2 separate regions of the Homo sapiens genome follow, and region 1 is linked to region 2. The links come from fine-mapping of genetic effects on gene expression. Tissue or cell type: whole blood. Region 2 holds a variant in brackets; the other region holds the start of a gene. All regions are shown on one strand. Distances are from middle to middle.

The links. PIP is the estimated chance that this variant, and not a neighbour inherited with it, causes the effect.
Region 1: it holds the start of PGAP3, and the variant in region 2 is fine-mapped to the expression of PGAP3 in whole blood (TOPMed, PIP 0.92).

The regions. Positions count from the first base shown.
Region 1 is chr17:39,684,350-39,692,399 of GRCh38, reverse strand. PGAP3 (post-GPI attachment to proteins phospholipase 3) reads left to right here and starts at 4,343. Exons shown (of 8, transcript NM_033419.5): 1 at 4,343-4,566; 2 at 6,381-6,478; 3 at 7,651-7,803. The coding sequence starts at 4,386. It also overlaps a transcript of ERBB2 not described here. RefSeq lists a silencer at 2,970-3,264 and enhancers at 2,544-3,504, 4,215-4,324.
Region 2 is chr17:39,626,978-39,635,034 of GRCh38, reverse strand. It overlaps PPP1R1B (protein phosphatase 1 regulatory inhibitor subunit 1B), which reads right to left. Exons shown (of 7, transcript NM_032192.4): 1 at 7,562-8,057; 2 at 5,805-5,865; 3 at 5,473-5,495; 4 at 4,988-5,063; 5 at 949-1,152. The coding sequence starts at 7,642. LOC124903998 (a long non-coding RNA gene) reads left to right here. Exons shown (of 2, transcript XR_007065749.1): 2 at 9-397. Among named protein-coding and RNA genes, the nearest start is that of PPP1R1B, 4.1 kb to the right of the region's middle. RefSeq lists enhancers at 1,834-2,753, 2,754-3,673. The variant T/C (reference allele first, on the strand shown) is at 4,237.

The DNA.
Region 1 (8,050 bases), 57 kb before region 2:
CTTACTTCCCTATTGATCAGGCACATAGTCCCACTTCCCACCAGAGGCAAGAACTATTTCCACTTTCTTTTTTATCTTTCTAGATATATTCTCAAAAATAACAACCATAATACTACGCGCATAACACGTACCCTTATTTTTCTTCACATGGGGTACTGTATATAAGTGTATAGGTGTACATACACATGCATACACACACACATATTTTGTTCTGCACTGTGCACTTGATACTTATCAAAAATATTTGGCCAGGTGTGATGGCTCATGCCTATAATCCCAGCACTTTGGGAGGCTGAGACAGGTGGATCACCTGAGGTCGGGAGTTCAAGACAGCCTTACCAACATGGTGAAGCCCTGTCTCTACTAAAAAATACAAAAATTAGCCGGATGTGGTGGCACACACCTGTAATCCCAGCTACTCGGGAGGCTGAGACACAAGAGATATATATATATATATATATATATGTATATGTATATGTATATGTATATGTATATATATCTATATCTATATCTATATCTATATCTATATCTATCATGAAGGTTTTACCATGCTAGTACATTACAAATCTGCCCCATTCCTATTAATTTCTGTTCAGCCTTCCATTGTATGGCTCTCCCTCCATTAATATAATTCATTCCCTATTGATGGACATTTAGTTGTTTCCTTTTTCTTCTTGCTATTGAAAACAATGACTAATGCTACCACAAATAACTGTACTTAAACAAATTTGCACTTGTTTAGGTATACTGGAGCTTATGTAGGTATACCTAGGAGTGAAATTCCTGGGTTAGAGGGTATGTGTGTGTGTGTGTGTGTGTGTGTGTATATATATATATATATATTTTTTTTTTTAATGTAGATGGAGTCTCGCTCTGTCACCAGGCTGGAGTGCAGTGGCATAATCCAGGCTCACTGCAACCTCCAACTCCCTGGTTCAAGCAATTCTCCTGCCTCAGCTTCCGGAGTAGCTGGGATTACAGGCACGTGCCACCATGCCCAGCTAATTTTTTTGTATTTTTAGTAGAGATGGGGTTTCACCATGTTGGCTAGGATGGTCTCGATCTCCTGATCTCATGATCCGCCTGCCTTGGCCTCCCACAGTGCTGGGATTACAGATGTGAGCCACCGCACCTGGCTTCAGTCTTTTGTTTGACACTTGTTTATGGCCTGTTTCCCTCCTCTGACCATGAAAAGTACAGTGCCTTGTTCATCACTCTGTTCCCAGAGACTTGCACATGGTAAACTTAATAAACATTTGATGAATAAGGAACCCACATTGTAGACTCTCTACCAATTTTGATCTAAGAACATGGTCAGCTTGCCGTTGAGCCTTTAGCACACTATACTTTTTTTTTTTTTTTTGAAACGGAGTTTTGCTCTTGTTGCCCAGGCTGGAGTGCAATGGCACGATCTCAGGAGTTTCTCCATGTTAGGTCAGGCTGGTCTCGAACTCCTGACCTCAGATGATCCACCTGCCTCGCCCTCCCAAAGTGCTGGGATTACAGGCATGAGCCACTGTGCCTGTCCAGCACACTCTACTATTAACATATGCTTTGTCTTTTTTTTCCCCCATGAGTACAATGGCTGATACACAGGAGGACTCAATAAGCCTGAGTTGAAGGAATGAATTAGTGACTTTTCAGACTGTGGATCACATCTGAAGCCAAATACAAGTTAGGAAGAAGGACAAGCTAAGGAGGCTCAGGGGAGAACTAGGGGCTCCAGGCTAGAAAGTTGGGAAGAGAGGCCAGGTAATCGCCATCTAGAGATTGTTATCTGGGGCTGTGCTGGCAGGGAAATTCTCAAGAGCTGTCCCAGAGAGACAGTACCCCATCTTCCAAGAAGTCAACAGAACAGAAGTCTCTACTCCCACTTCCACCATTAACCTAGGATTGCTTTTTCCATCAGGTATGTAGGCATGGGTTTTCAAGGACCTCTGAAATACTTTAGACCCGAACAAATTTCCATTGTTAGTTCTAAAATATAAGAAAGCTGCGAAAATTAATATTTTATGGCCGTGTGGCATGGCTCACGCCCGTAATCCCAGCACTTTGGGAGGTTGAGGCGGGAGGATCACTCGAGCCCAGGAATTGGAGACCAGTCTAGGCAACATAGCAAGACCGTGTCTCTACAAAAAATTAAAAAAATTAGCAGGGCATAGTGGCGCATGCTGCAGTCCCAGCTACTCAGGAGGCTGAGATGGAAGGATCACTTGAGTCTGGGAGGTTGAGGTTGCAGTGAGTCGTGATCATGCCACTGCACTTCAGTCTAGGTGAAAGAGTGAGAGGCTGTCTGGGAAAAAAAATTTTTTTTAACTAAATGTATATAAATGTAGCAATATGTCAACTATTAACAGCAATTAGATTGAATTATATATATGTATAGTTATTTATAAATCTTATTTAATGTGGGGCGTTACTGCATTTCAGTATGTTTGACATAATATAGGATGAGGCCTTCAAAATTGGAATTTTCTTTTTCTTTTTTTTTTTTTTTTTGAGTTTCGCTCTTGTTGCCCAGGCTGGAGTGCGATGGCGCAATCTTGGCTCACCACAACCTCTGCCTCCCTGGGTTCAAGCGATTCTCCTGCCTCAGCCTCCTGAGTAGCTGGGATTACAGGCATGCACCACCACACCCAACTAATTTTGTATTTTTAGTAGAGATGGGGTTTCTCCATGTTGGTCAGGCTGGTCTCAAACTCCTAACCTCAGGTGATCCGTCCGCCTCGGCCTCCCAAAGTGCTGGGATTACAGGCGTGAGCCACCACCCCCAGCCTTACTTAGGAATTTTCTAAAGGGGAGACTCCCTATTTTGTCAGGATTTCATCCTCTTTAATCCTAAATGTCCATCTTTATATGAGGATCCTCATAAAAAGACTCATCCCAGAGTCACAGAAAGGACAAAATGAAATGAAAAAAGAAAAAAAAACAGTATTGTAAAAGAACTAATCTGTAAGATGCAAAGTAGTATTAGCACTGGATTTCCGGTCAGCTCCTGGAGGGCTAAGGGGTTGTTTTGTTCATTTCAGCTTCTCAGTCAGTATCAGTTGGGTGGTCAACTCCAGGGGACACTATTCATGTTATATTTAACTGGAAGAATTTGCCATTCACAGAAAAGGCAATGTGAATGCTGCTCCCCAGAGCACCATTCACAGAAAATGCAATGTGAATGGTGCCTCCTGGAGATTTTGCCTTGCTTAGCAAGGTGCTAGAGCTAAGGACTCAGAAATGTTTGTTAAGTGAGTGAATGGAATCCCAGGCTACTTCTTACTCATTCCAACCCCCAGGACGAAAAAGAAAAGTTGACAAGGGGTGAGGAGAGTGGGGGAGGAGAAAGGGTGATCCTTAGCTACAAGGCTTCTATGAGATTGGGTGTGGGTCGGTGCTGATGGGAGTGCAGGGGAGGTGAGCAGGGAGAGGATACTAAAGCAAGCGTCCTGTTCCCAGGGTTCCTAATTTTCCTAGAAATATTACTTCTCTCCGATCTCAGTGCAGAACCATACTGATGATTTTACAGCCCTGGATTTGTCAAGTTCTTATGTTGATGTATGCTGTTCATTCATTAAACAGAAGAACAAACAAACGCAGTTAGCGCCTACCATAAGCCAAATTCTGTGCTGGAGGTAGAGTGGTGAACAGGACAGCAAAGGTTCTACCCCGCATGGGGAAGCAATCACCCTCGGGAGGTGGTACTTCAATTGCGACTAGAAGAAAAAAGAAGAGTGAGTGATTCAGACCAGGCCAGGCAGTCAGGAAGCTTGAGGGACATAGCCCTCTGAAGCGGGTCTGGAGCAAGGGAGTGAGGGAGACCAGTGGACAGGGGCCAAATCAGGCAGGGTTTGTGGAGACTGTATTTTACCCAAGGTAATTGGGAGCCAGTAAATAATTTTAAGAAAAAAAAAGTGATATGGGCAAATTTTAATTTTTCAAAATGGAGCGCAGGTTGGAAGAGGCAAAAGTAGAGGCAGGGAGAGCCATTAAGAAGCTACTGCGGCTGTCTTGGCGACACATGATGGTGTCTTTAACCAGGGTGGTGCCAGAAGAGATGGAGAGAAGTGGATAGTTACAGGTACGTTTAGGAAGTAAAATCCGACAGGGGTGGTGACAGTAAACAGCCCTACCTCAAAAAAGATCATGGAAAACACTTCAGTTTGCTCATTAACCCATCAGGCGTCCGCCTTCCCTTAACCCTATCGCCTCGATATATGGACACAGCAGGGGGACGAGGGGCGGGGCAGGCGCCCACAAAAATCCGGGAACTTTAATTTAAACTGTGTGGACTTCAGCGGAGAGTAGAATAAAGAACACAGGAACTTCCGGTTACTCCGGAAGTGGAAGCTTCATACTCCTAAGCTCCTCCCCCGGCGGCGAGCCAGGGAGAAAGGATGGCCGGCCTGGCGGCGCGGTTGGTCCTGCTAGCTGGGGCAGCGGCGCTGGCGAGCGGCTCCCAGGGCGACCGTGAGCCGGTGTACCGCGACTGCGTACTGCAGTGCGAAGAGCAGAACTGCTCTGGGGGCGCTCTGAATCACTTCCGCTCCCGCCAGCCAATCTACATGAGTCTAGCAGGTAAGCCCCACCCCCACGGTAAGCCCCGCCCATTTGTCTTGCTCCCGCCCCCTGCGCCCCCAATACGCCTCTGCAATCCCTGAACCTTAGTTTCCCCACGAGGTCTCTTATGAATGTGAGTGAAGCCCCTAAGGTGATGAGAGCCTTACCAGCCTCTCTTACTTTCCCAGAAGCTTTCATTTACTTATTTGTTCAGTCAAAAGGGTATTTATTAAATACATTCGGGCCACAATGTCTAGGAATGGCACAGAAATCAGACCAGGGTCCCGCCCATTGGGACTCACAGTCCCCACGGGGACATGAGCCTTTTCAAGTGCAAGGCAGAGAATGATTTGAGCCCCTGAAAGACTCTTTGATTAGGAAGCATTTGGGATAGGAAGGTGTCAGTTCCGGCTTTGAAGACGTGGGGGCAGGGATCATCTTGGAACGTTTTGTTTGAAGGAGGGACTTTGGACTGGTACATTCGATTTGGACCATAGTGGGCAAAGAACCAACGTATTGAGCACTCACTGTGTGACAGGTGTCACAATATGTCAAGTAATTTTTATCACACCCTTTGAGATAGTTTCTCTAATCCCAGTTTTACAGATGGGGATTAGAGAGATTAAATGCCCTGCCCAAGGTCACACAGCCAGTATGTAGTAAAGTGGAGTTTCCAGTTCTGGCCTGTTTGACCACAAGCTTGTCCTCTTTACTATTATACCACTTTGCATTCCAGACAGAGGGAACAGAGAGAATGGATGCCCTGGGCAGATGTGGGCACATCCAGGAGCTTTATTTACTCAGGGAGCAGGGTACATGAACAGGAGTAGTGACCAATACGGTTGGAAAGGCAATTTGGAGCCTCAAAAGTCAGGTTGAAGAATTTGGGCTTCATTTTCATAGGAAGGGAGTAAGATAGCAAGAACTCCTTCCAGGAGAGTAAGAGCAAATCCTATATTCAGGAAGGACAAATATAAACCCAGGTTTCCATAGATGAGTTCATCAGATGCCAACATCTTGATGGACTTGAGCAAAAGGAGAGGAAATGTCTGCCAAGGTAGAAAGATCATCTGAGCCCTGGAGTTCAAGACTAGCCTAGGCAACATGACAAGATGCCTTCTCTACAAAAAATAAAAGAATTAGCCAGACATTGTGGTCTCGCTACTTGGGAGGCTGAGGTGGGAGGATCGTTTGAGCCCAGGAGGTCAAGGCTGTGGTGAGCCATGCTCTCCCCACTGCACTCCAGCCTGGATGAAAGAGCGAGACCCTGTCTCAAAAAAAAAAAAAAAAAAAAAATGCCGGGTGCGGTGGCTCGTGCCTGCAATCCCCGCACTTTAGGTGGCAGAGGCAGGCAGATAACCTGAGGTTGGGAGTTCAAGACCACCCTGACCAACATGGAGAAACCCCATCTCTACTAAAAATACAAAATTAGTTGGGTGTGGTGGTGCATGCCTGTAATCCCAGCTACTCGGGAGCCTGAGGCAGGAGAATCGCTTGAACCCAGGAGGCGGAGGTTGCAGTGAACCGAGATCGCACCATTGCACTCCAGCCTGGGCAACAAAAACAAAACTGTCTCAAAAAAACAAACAAAAAAAAGACGAATATCTCTAATTGCTCACTAAAATATGCATACATACGTACATACACCTTCCCCTATGTGTACATCTCATCATCTCTCATTCATTCAAAGGGGAAGCTAGAATTTTGAGATTTCTCCTGGTTCTCTCCAACTTACAGGCCCTCTTGGCCTACATTTGCGCTTGGACCCCATTCATGCTCTCTCTTTCCTCTCTGTGCTGGGGAGTTCACCAGGCCACATTTGTCTGTTTCAGGCTGGACCTGTCGGGACGACTGTAAGTATGAGTGTATGTGGGTCACCGTTGGGCTCTACCTCCAGGAAGGTCACAAAGTGCCTCAGTTCCATGGCAAGGTGAGTTGGAGGGTCAGGGTAGGCATATGGTAGTAGCGTGGTAGGAGTAATATACCCCCTGGTTGGACCACACTGTCCAAGCAGTCTGAGGCATGGGGTAATGCGTGTGTGTTTGGGGCAGCTACCTGTTCTCCCCAAAATCTGCTGGTTTCCATAGAATTGGATAGGACCCATGTGTCCTGCCTCTGGATTTGGAGTAGCAATATCTGGAAGGCTTTGGAGTCTCCCCAGAGAGTGGTGCTGGGCCTCTTAGAGTGGTTGAGATGCCCACCTTACTGCAGGGACAAATTCCCTTACCTACTGTGGCTTGTTTCCTGTTGCTTCTCCAGTAGGGGTCTGGATTCACAGTAATATGCTTCAGCTTGTCTAGCGAGGCACAGTTTGCTGGTACCTTTCTTTCTTTTGTTTTTTGTTTTTTGTTTTTTTTTTTGAGATGGAGTCTCCCTCTGTCGCCCAGGCTGGAGTGCAGTGGCATGATCTTGGCTCACTGCAACCTCTACCTCCCAGGTTCAAGCAATTCTCATGCCTGAGCCTCCCAAGTAGCTGGGACTACAGGTGTGTGCCACCACACCCAGCTAATTTTTTGTATTTTTTTTTTTTTTTTTTTAAGTAGAGATGGGGTTTCACCATGTTAGCCAGGATGGTCTCAATCTCCTGACCTTGTGACCCTCTCGCCTCAGCTTCCCAAAGTGCTGGGATTACAGGCGTGAGCCACCGCGCCTGGCCTGCTGGTACGTTTCAATCCAGTATTATCTCATTCTGGCCTGTTGAGGTTGGCAGGAAGTATTCACCCCAGTTTTTCACAGAGTAAGCTGAGGCTCAAAGGACCGTGGTCAGTGGTAGAGGAGGGGTTGGGACCTGTGTCTTCTGGATGGCAACTCTGTGCTGTTTCCACCAGGCCATACTGAGTCATCTACCCTGACCCATCTGGTCTTCCCAGAGATCAGGGCTTACAGTGCTGTGCCTGCTGGCCAGGATGGGGGTATAACTCTTAACTAGGCACTGGAGGGTGGCTCATTAGTCTGAAGAGGTACTGAACCTGAGGCTTTGGCCAAACTCCAGAGCTGAGGACTCAGCTGAGGACCTGTTGCTTCAGCATGTCAAGAATAGGTGGACTGGGCCAGTTGAGGGTTGCCTGCCCTTCAAACCTCCTTCATCTGCTCCTTTTTCAGTGGCCCTTCTCCCGGTTCCTGTTCTTTCAAGAGCCGGCATCGGCCGTGGCCTCGTTTCTCAATGGCCTGGCCAGCCTGGTGATGCTCTGCCGCTACCGCACCTTCGTGCCAGCCTCCTCCCCCATGTACCACACCTGTGTGGCCTTCGCCTGGGTAGGTAACCTAGCAGGACTCCTGCTGTCTCCTCTTATCTAGGAAGGTGGAGCTCTACATCCCTATTAACACCCAACAGGGCTTCTACTTACCAGCTTCCCCTCTGTTTCCCAGGGCTAAAGTTGCAGCTGCAGGGTGGTAAAGCCTGGGGAGAAAACAGGGAGGGTGCTGAATCGGGCCTTACCTTTCCAGCAGAGCCCTAGGTCAGGCTGTTTGGGAAGGAGAGAGGAAAGAAGGGCATTTTTCT
Region 2 (8,057 bases):
TATTACAGATGGGGTTTCACCATGTTGGCTGGACTGGTCTTGAACTCCAGACCTCAAGTGATCCGCTAGCCTTGGCATCCCAAAGTGCTGGAATTACAGGCATGAGCCACCGCACCCAGCCACCTGCTGCTTTTCCTGAGGGAACAGTCTCCTCTCACCCCTCTTCCACTGTTTTGGAGGGGTCTCAGTGAGGACTGATTCAGGTCTTCCAGCTGTCTCTTGCCCACAAAGGGACTGAAGCCCAGCAACAGCTTTTGCCCCCATGGCCAATCTCTTCACTGCCAGATATGCAGGCAGGAGGCCCAAGGCCTTTTGTTTGTGTGGAAGAGCTGACAGCTTCTAGTAGGGGTGGTTGACTCTTCAGTATTCCCATAAATAATGAGACTAAAAAGGTTAATGGGCCGGGCTGGTTCTTGAATTTTAAATTCTACATCTAAACACTAGAGGGCACCCTCCCACTCCATCCTAGGAAGGAAAAAGAGGAGAAACAGACAACAGTCCTGGAGAGGGCAAGTAAATGAGGCAGCCCTCTGCACCCCAGCAGAGACCACATCCTAGGTTCAAAAATGTAGGTGAAATGCAGGTGACAGGGGTGTTGGACTCTCCTGGTCCTCCATCCCTGAATGTCCTCACGCCCCCTTACTGCCATAGGTGGGAAGTCCTCTTTTGGCTCTAGCCTCAAACCCCAAACGGCCTTGGCCTTAATTCTCAGGGAAGAGAGGAATTATTAGGGAAAACCTGATTGGGAGAGGGACTGAGCCAAGGATGGAGGAAACCCATGTCTCAGGTAGGGCTGAGTTCGGGGCACCCCATGGAGCGAGAAGACAGGGAGGCCCCTGTGGTGTCACTACAGTTTGCGTGTATGAGACACTGAACTAGAAGGGGACGTCCTCGTATACTCAAGGAGGACCCACAGCTAATCCACATGTCACAGGCCCCTCAGCTTACCAGACTGCCTGATGACCTTCAGGACTTCAGCCTGGCTGTCCTCTTCTTCTTCCTCTTCTTCATCATCCTCCTCTTCCTCCTCATCTTCCTCTCTTGGATAACCCAGCTCCCGAAGCTCCCCCAGCTCATCCTCCTCCTCTGAGGCCTGGTTCTCATTCAAATTGCTGATAGACTGCAGGTGAGACTCAGCAATGCGCTGCACAGCTGGCACAGAGGAGACCGAGGAAAGCAAGGGTCAGCTAGACACAGCCCATGGATCTGGAGATAGCCTGTGGCCTAGCCCCCAGCCTCCTTCCCGTAGGCCTGGGGCAGAGAATACCCCCTCAGGGGCCCAAGTTCAAAGGCCAAAGTTGACAGGTCAGCCTGATGGGTGTCAGACCAGGGCAGAGGCAGCCAGGGGTAGATTTGATCATGTTTGGCTCTTAAGCTGTCCTAAGATGCTAGCCCCCAGGCAGCTCCCCCACACCATAGGGCACTAGGCTGGGCAAGACCAGGCGGGCACAGCAGCAGCTTAACATTCCCTGGCTGGAGAGCTTGATTTTCCAAGTACCCAGTACGGGAGACAGTGTCTCCCAGCTTCAAGCCCAGGCAGAAGGCACAGGGCGTAGGAACCAGGGCCTGGGGATTTGCCACTTTCCATTTCTTGGGGGTGCCCAGCCTGCTGAGGGCTCACTGCTTACCCTGATCCTACCTCCCATGCGATGCATAGTCCCCACTCCCTGGCACTGCCCAGTCATAGATGCCAATCCACATACTCCTGCCCCGGGCTCCAAGGGACAGAACAATTCCGAGGCTGAGGACATAATAGTCTGCAGCCAGTGCAGTCTGTGCCGGGGGATGCGGCATGCTCAGATGCGGCCCCCACAATCTTGACCCACATCCCCAGGTTCCCAGCTCCCTCTGCGGTGACCTAGAAAGCAACCCCCCCAGCCTCCAAAGACCTGCTCAGATAGGGCTGGGAAGGGAACAGTGTGGGCAGCTGGAGACAAGTTTCCAAAAGATGGAAAGGAGCAAGGGGTTAGAGAAAGGGGCCAAGGCCAGGGGTTCTGGGGGATGGCAGAGGTTGAGGGGCCACTGAGGAGAGGCTGCAGGAGCTGGCAGGATCTTAGAACATATGCGACACAAAGTTCACAGGCCACAGACAAGATGCTGAGGAGGGGCTGGGGGTGGGGAATGGGGAGTTGCTGCAGTTCCTTCTTGGTCTGCCAGTGGCCCCTCCCCTCAGAAGGCCCAGAGGGGTAGGGCCAGGCTGGAAACCTCCGGCACAGTGAGCAGGGTGCTATGCTCCTGCCAACTCGGGGACAGGCACAGAGGGTGCTTTGTATGTGCCCGCTGCCCCACCCAGCCCCCAGCTCCCAGCCCAGTACCTCCTGCTGGCTCTGGGCAAGCTATCCAGGCAATAAAAGCACAATAAATCACCCTACCCTGACCTTGGGGACGCGGCAGAGCTTCATCTTGAGCCAAGTGTGAGAGCTCCAGCCTTGGAGCACAACCCCTCAAGCTAAGACTTAGTGCTGTGCCCCTCTCTCTAGGGCCCTCGATTCTTCCCTGACAAGCCCCAACCCTGCCGGGCACCTTCCCTTGCCCACAAAAGGACTGAAGCCTACAAAACAGTGCCCTCCTGGTAGAGAAGGATCCATGAGGGCTGTGGGGGGAGGTAAGGCAGGAGAGCAGGTGGCAGCCCAGGCAGCTTCCTTCTCCCCCAGCGGGGGAGGAGAGTTCACTTCGTGAGCCACAGTGACAACAGAAGGTGTGTGCGGTGCTTGCGCTGGTGCCCCGTGAGCCTCCCTCGCTTCCCCCACCTCCCTCATGCCTCCTGGGCTCTCTGGGGTCTCCCCATCACTCCTTCCAGGCTGTCTCCTTCTCTGCCCCACTCTGTGGGGCCCCAAACTCCCCCCACCACAAGTCTTCCTTCTTCAGTTGGAAGGTCCCCAGCCTTGCCCCAGACTGGCCACCCCTCTCCTGATCCCTTTCCTCTTCCCTGCCTCTACTCACCTGGACTCTCCTAAGATGTGGCCTAAAGGGGCAGTTGAGGGGGTGCACAATTTTGACCACTGCACGGTGCATGGTAGCACCCTGGCCCTAACATCTTCATCCTGGCCTGTTCGCCCATGCTTGCAGTCAAGAGCCAGGTCTTCCCCTCACATCCACCCAGCCTCTCCCTACCCAGCCCAAGGTGGGAGGGAGAGGGATTTCTTAAATTCTCTCCTGAGAAGATGACACTCTGTCCCTCATGCCTGCTTTGGGGCCCTTCCACACACCCCTCTAGGTGGGGAGGTCCTTCCAGGTGCTGAGCCACACTGCCCACTTGCTGCAGCTCTGACCCTTCATTTTCCTGTCCTGGGGAAAGCAAAATAACCCCTTCCCTTCTCTCCTCCCTTCCCAGCCTCTCCTCTCTGTTCCCAACCCTGGCAAGTGGGCTGACAGGTATACCTGTTGACCTTGGCTGGTGCTGGGAACTTATTAAACCCTCCCCCGAACCACTTCCCAGCATACTCTTCCGGTAGCTCTCCCTCCCAACCTCCGCAGGAGCGGAGGGGGCTGGCCGGGCAGGAAGAGCCCCAGGCAGGAGTTGAGGTGGGGGGTTGGTAGGCAACAGGGCTTAGTCAGGAAGAGGCCCTCCTATGTCCTTCAGGTATATCTCCCCAGCTCCCTGACTAGAAACGAAGCCTCCTCCAGGTTGGCCCAGAAGTCCCCCTCTGACTCGCATCTCTTTCTCTTTGCACACCTTCTTCCCTCTTCTTGGACCTGGGATGCCCTTGCCTGCCTGTTAAATTCCTATGATCCTTCAAATCCAAGCTTAAACATCTTTGTGTACCTTCCTTGACCCTTTTCTTTTTTTATTTTTTCCCGAGACAGGCTCTCACTCTGTAGCCCAGACTGGAGCACAGTGGTGCGATCATAGCTCACTGCAGCCTCAAACTTCTGGGCTCAAGCAATCCTTGTGCCTTAGCCTCCCAAGTATCTGGGACTATAGGTGTGCACCTCTATGCTTAGCTCACTTTTTTTTTTTTCTTGAGACAGAGTTTTGCTCTTTTTGCCCAGACTGGAGTGCAATGGTGCGATCTCAGCTCACCACAACCTCTGCCTCCCGGGTTCAAGTGATTCTCCTGCCTCAGCCTCCTGAGTAGCTGAGATGACAGGCATGCGCTACCACGCCTGGCTAATTTTGTATTTTTAATAGAGACAGGATTTCTCCATGTTGGTCAGGCTGGTCTCAAACTCCTGACCTCAGGTGATCTGCCCGCCTCGGCCTCCCAAAGTGCTGGGATTACAGGCGTGAGTCAC[T/C]GCGCCCGGCCCGCTTAGCTCACTTTGTAAATTTTTCATAGAGATGGGGGTCTCACTGTATTGCCCAAGCTGGTCTCGAACTCCTAGGCTCAAGCAGTCCTCCCGCCTTGGCCTCCCAAAGTGCTGGGATTTCAGGTGTGAGCCACCTTACTTGGCCCCTCCCTGACCCTTTGAGGCAAAGAGCCCCAAGGGGGCAGGGACCAAATCTGACTCATCTTATTCTGCCCAATGCCCACCAACTTGGCCTGGCATATACTAGGTGTTGAGTAAGTGTGCAAAAGGAATGGCTTGCTTTTCCATGGAGAAAGGGAAGCAGGAAAGAGGAGACCAGTGTGCAGATCTGTGCAAATGGGATGCAAATGGGAGGGGAGGCCAGGGGTGAAGCCCACAGGAGAAGGCGCCCTGGATGAGCAGGGGTGGGAGGTGGTCCACCACAGGCTGGTGAAGAGGAGCTGCAGGTGGAGTCCCTTCCACGCGGATGCCTGCTGGTTGTCTTAGGCCAGCCATCTCTTTTCTTTCAAGCCCACAACCCGATGTTAAGGCCCATAGCTGCCCATTGCAGCCTCGGGACTCCTGTGTTTTGCAAGGCCAGACTGAGAAAAAATTGGTCTTTACGTTGGGTTGTTGCGCCACGCTGACAGCGGGCTATGTGTGGCGAAACAATCCCTCCCCACTGACAAAAGCTCCCCTAGCGTCTGCCCAGTTCCAGGGATCAGGCGGACAGCCAGGAAGGTCGGTGGGGGTATAGTACCTTTCAGCGAAGGTGGTGTGTAGGCACAGGGGTTGGGTCTCTTCGACTTGAGATGGTGCCCCTCTCCTGAGGCTCTCTGCCAGGGGAAGTGCCAGGTTAAAGGGGCTCAGCAGAGGCCCTTGCCTTCACCATCCCTCCATTCCATCCCACCCATGGCCACCCAAGCAGACTGATTTAGCCACTGCTAATGGGTCCTGCACCTAGGCTGAGCCTCCCCACCCTGTGGCTTTAGGGGGGGCCCCCCATAAGCCATGGCCTGGTTCAGGGCAGGACTCTAGGTCCAGGAGGTTCCACCCTGAGTCTGAGCAGAGGAGGATCTGCTGGTGGCACCCTGGCATGAGGCACTCTCAGAGGACTGCCCATTGATATGCTAATGTGTCCTCTTGGGTGGCACCCCATACTGGTTGGTTGTCACTGCAGGCACCCGTCCACCCCACCCCAAGGGGCCCAGGCATCCCTCCTTCCAGCTGCCCCAGGAAACTCACCTGGTGGGGGGAGGCTTCCTCCTCTGAGGAAGGCCACCAAAGCCAACCGAACCAGAACCAAGCGAGGAGGAAAAGAGAAGAGGGAGAGAGAGAAAGAATCCGAGTTATTTTCCCCAGGGTCTCAATCTCTGGGGACAGGGAAAGTGTGCCCTCTCCCTCCTGCGGCTGGGAGGTGTCATGTCAATAAATAAAGCCAATAGAGTTGGGTTCCCAGACCTTATCCACTCCCCAGTCTCCAGCTTTGACTCCTGTTCATGGGACTTTGGCAGGGCCCCTAGGAAGGCATCAGAGCTAGGGTGGGGCCAGGGCTAAGTGGGCAGGGAGGGGCCTACCTGGTGAGGAGTGCTCTGAGAGCCGGAACAGCATGGCAGGCGTTGGTCTCCTGCGCCGGATCTAAGGAGATGGAGGGAGGGGTGACTGGATGGACACCTGCAGCCCTCCCCCACCCCCAGGCAGCAGGGAACAAACAGTGCTTTGGAGTCCCCAGGGAACCTTTGAATCAAAGTCTGTCAGAGCCAAAAGGAACTCTGTAGCTCACCTAACCCCCTCATTTTACAGAGGTGAAAAAGCAGGGCTCAGAGAGATTTGGCAATGTGCTTAAGGCCACACAGCACAACAAGTCCAAAGGACGAGAAAAACCCCAGTCACTGACTCCCAGCCCATGCCTGTCCCACTCCATGGCTACTCCAGAACAGACATCTCCCTTCCTATCTTCTCCCACCAAGGCCCTTCCTCTCTCCAGTTTCTGAAAACATCAGACCTCGGAAGCCAAAGCTGGCTACAGCTCCAGCTGCCACGGCTGGGCCCTCTGGGGAAGATGCCCCACGGGCCATGGCACCCATGTGGCCCTGCCCACCTAAGATCAGCTCAAGGGCTTCAAACAAGCTGGATCCAGCTTTTCAGAAGGAGACTGAGCCAGCGCACTGCAGGCACCCCCCACCTCCAGCTGAGGCTCAGGGACCCAAAGGGGCCTGGGGGACCTCTCTGGGGGCCTTGGTTTGGGCTTCTTTTCCAGTCTCTGTAAGGCTGCAGAACTCTTCACCCAGTCCTTGTGAGAAATGAAAAGTTGCCCTCCTTGCTACGTGAGCCAAGCAGCAACTGACCGCCCCCCTCCCCGCCCCGCCCCTCAGCTTGGCAATCAGACCAACTGTCAGTTAATTAGGTCCCTGTTGAGCTCCAGGGAAATGCACAAAGAGAACCAGGTGAGTTAAGCTGAAACTGCCACCTCCCCAGCCAAGCTCCCCATGACACCCTCATGACCCAAAGCTGCTTAGGCCCAGGACTGTACCCCCTGCCCTCTATCTCCCCCCATAATGACTTGGCCCCCTCATCACTGCTCAGTGGGGAGCCAGCTGCATCTCAGCTCAGCAACAAGTGACCCCTGCTCCACTAGGGATGGGAAGTGGAGCTCTCTGTCACAGCACCCGCCAGCCTTTGGAAGCCCCTCAACCCCCAAGAAGGCCCTCAGGAGGACTCAGTAGTCTGTGGGAAGAGGTCTGGCTTTGTGATGACTCCCCACCTCTCCCTCCTTGGGGTTGGGGCTCTGGGGCCTGACAGCAGGAGGCCAGAGCCAGGTTCTGGAGACCCCAGCCCAGGCACACACGCGGGATTAGAGAGGGGCAGGGTAGTGGATTCACCCGGTGGCAGCCTCATACTCCTGCCCTGGGTGACAAGGTCAGTGTCCACCGCTGCTCACATCTGACCAGCTCTGGGACAGAGCCAGGCGGAGCGGTCCCGGTGGTAGCCTAGGAGACTGACTACCCTTTGGGGACTGTGCTGGGACCAAAGGACGCCCCCACCCCACTCCTGGGCGGTCTGGAATCGGCCTGTCCCCCCACCCCCGCACCCCCAGCCTCACTGCCAGGAACTCTCTTGCCCCGGGATCAGGACCAAAGCCGCGGGGAAAAGTTGCACGAGTCTCCAGCTAACTTCACACGCGGCCCCGCGCCCCGTCCTGACCGAGGCAGAGCCCGGCTCTCCTTGCGCCCCCACCCCCAGGCCAGTCCGGCCGGGGCAGCGCCTTGGGAGGGCGAAGAAGCCCCGCGGGGTGTGTCGGGTACGCTGCCGGGGTGGGGCACGGGCCCCTTACCATCTCCACCTGGCGGGGGTCGAGCTGGCTAGGGGGCGCGGGCACCGAGAACTGGATCTTCTTGCGGTCCTTGGGGTCCATGGCGCGCGGGGTGGGCGGTGGGGCTGGGGTGCGCGACTCGGGGTCCCGGCGGCGGTCTGTGCTGGGCTCCCCCGCGCAGGCGGCGGGCTGTGCGGCGAGAGGAGGAGGAGGGCTGTTCGCGCACGGATAAAAATACCGTGCCCGCCGAGGGGAGGGCGCGGGAGCGGGAGGAGGGTCGGCGCCCGGGCTGGGCGCGCCCCCAGGCTCTCGGGACTCGGGGCTCGCCCCCCGCGCTCGCTGAGCCAGGTCTGTGCCTCGCTCCCTCGCGCTCCCCGGCCTGGGTGTCTCTGCGTCTCGGTGTCTCTCCCCTCCTGAGTGTCTCTGCGTCTCGGTGTCTCTCCCCTCCTGAGTGTCTCTGCGTGTCTCCTCTCTCTGCCTCTCCCGTCCTTCTCCACCTCCCTCCCTCAGCCTCTCC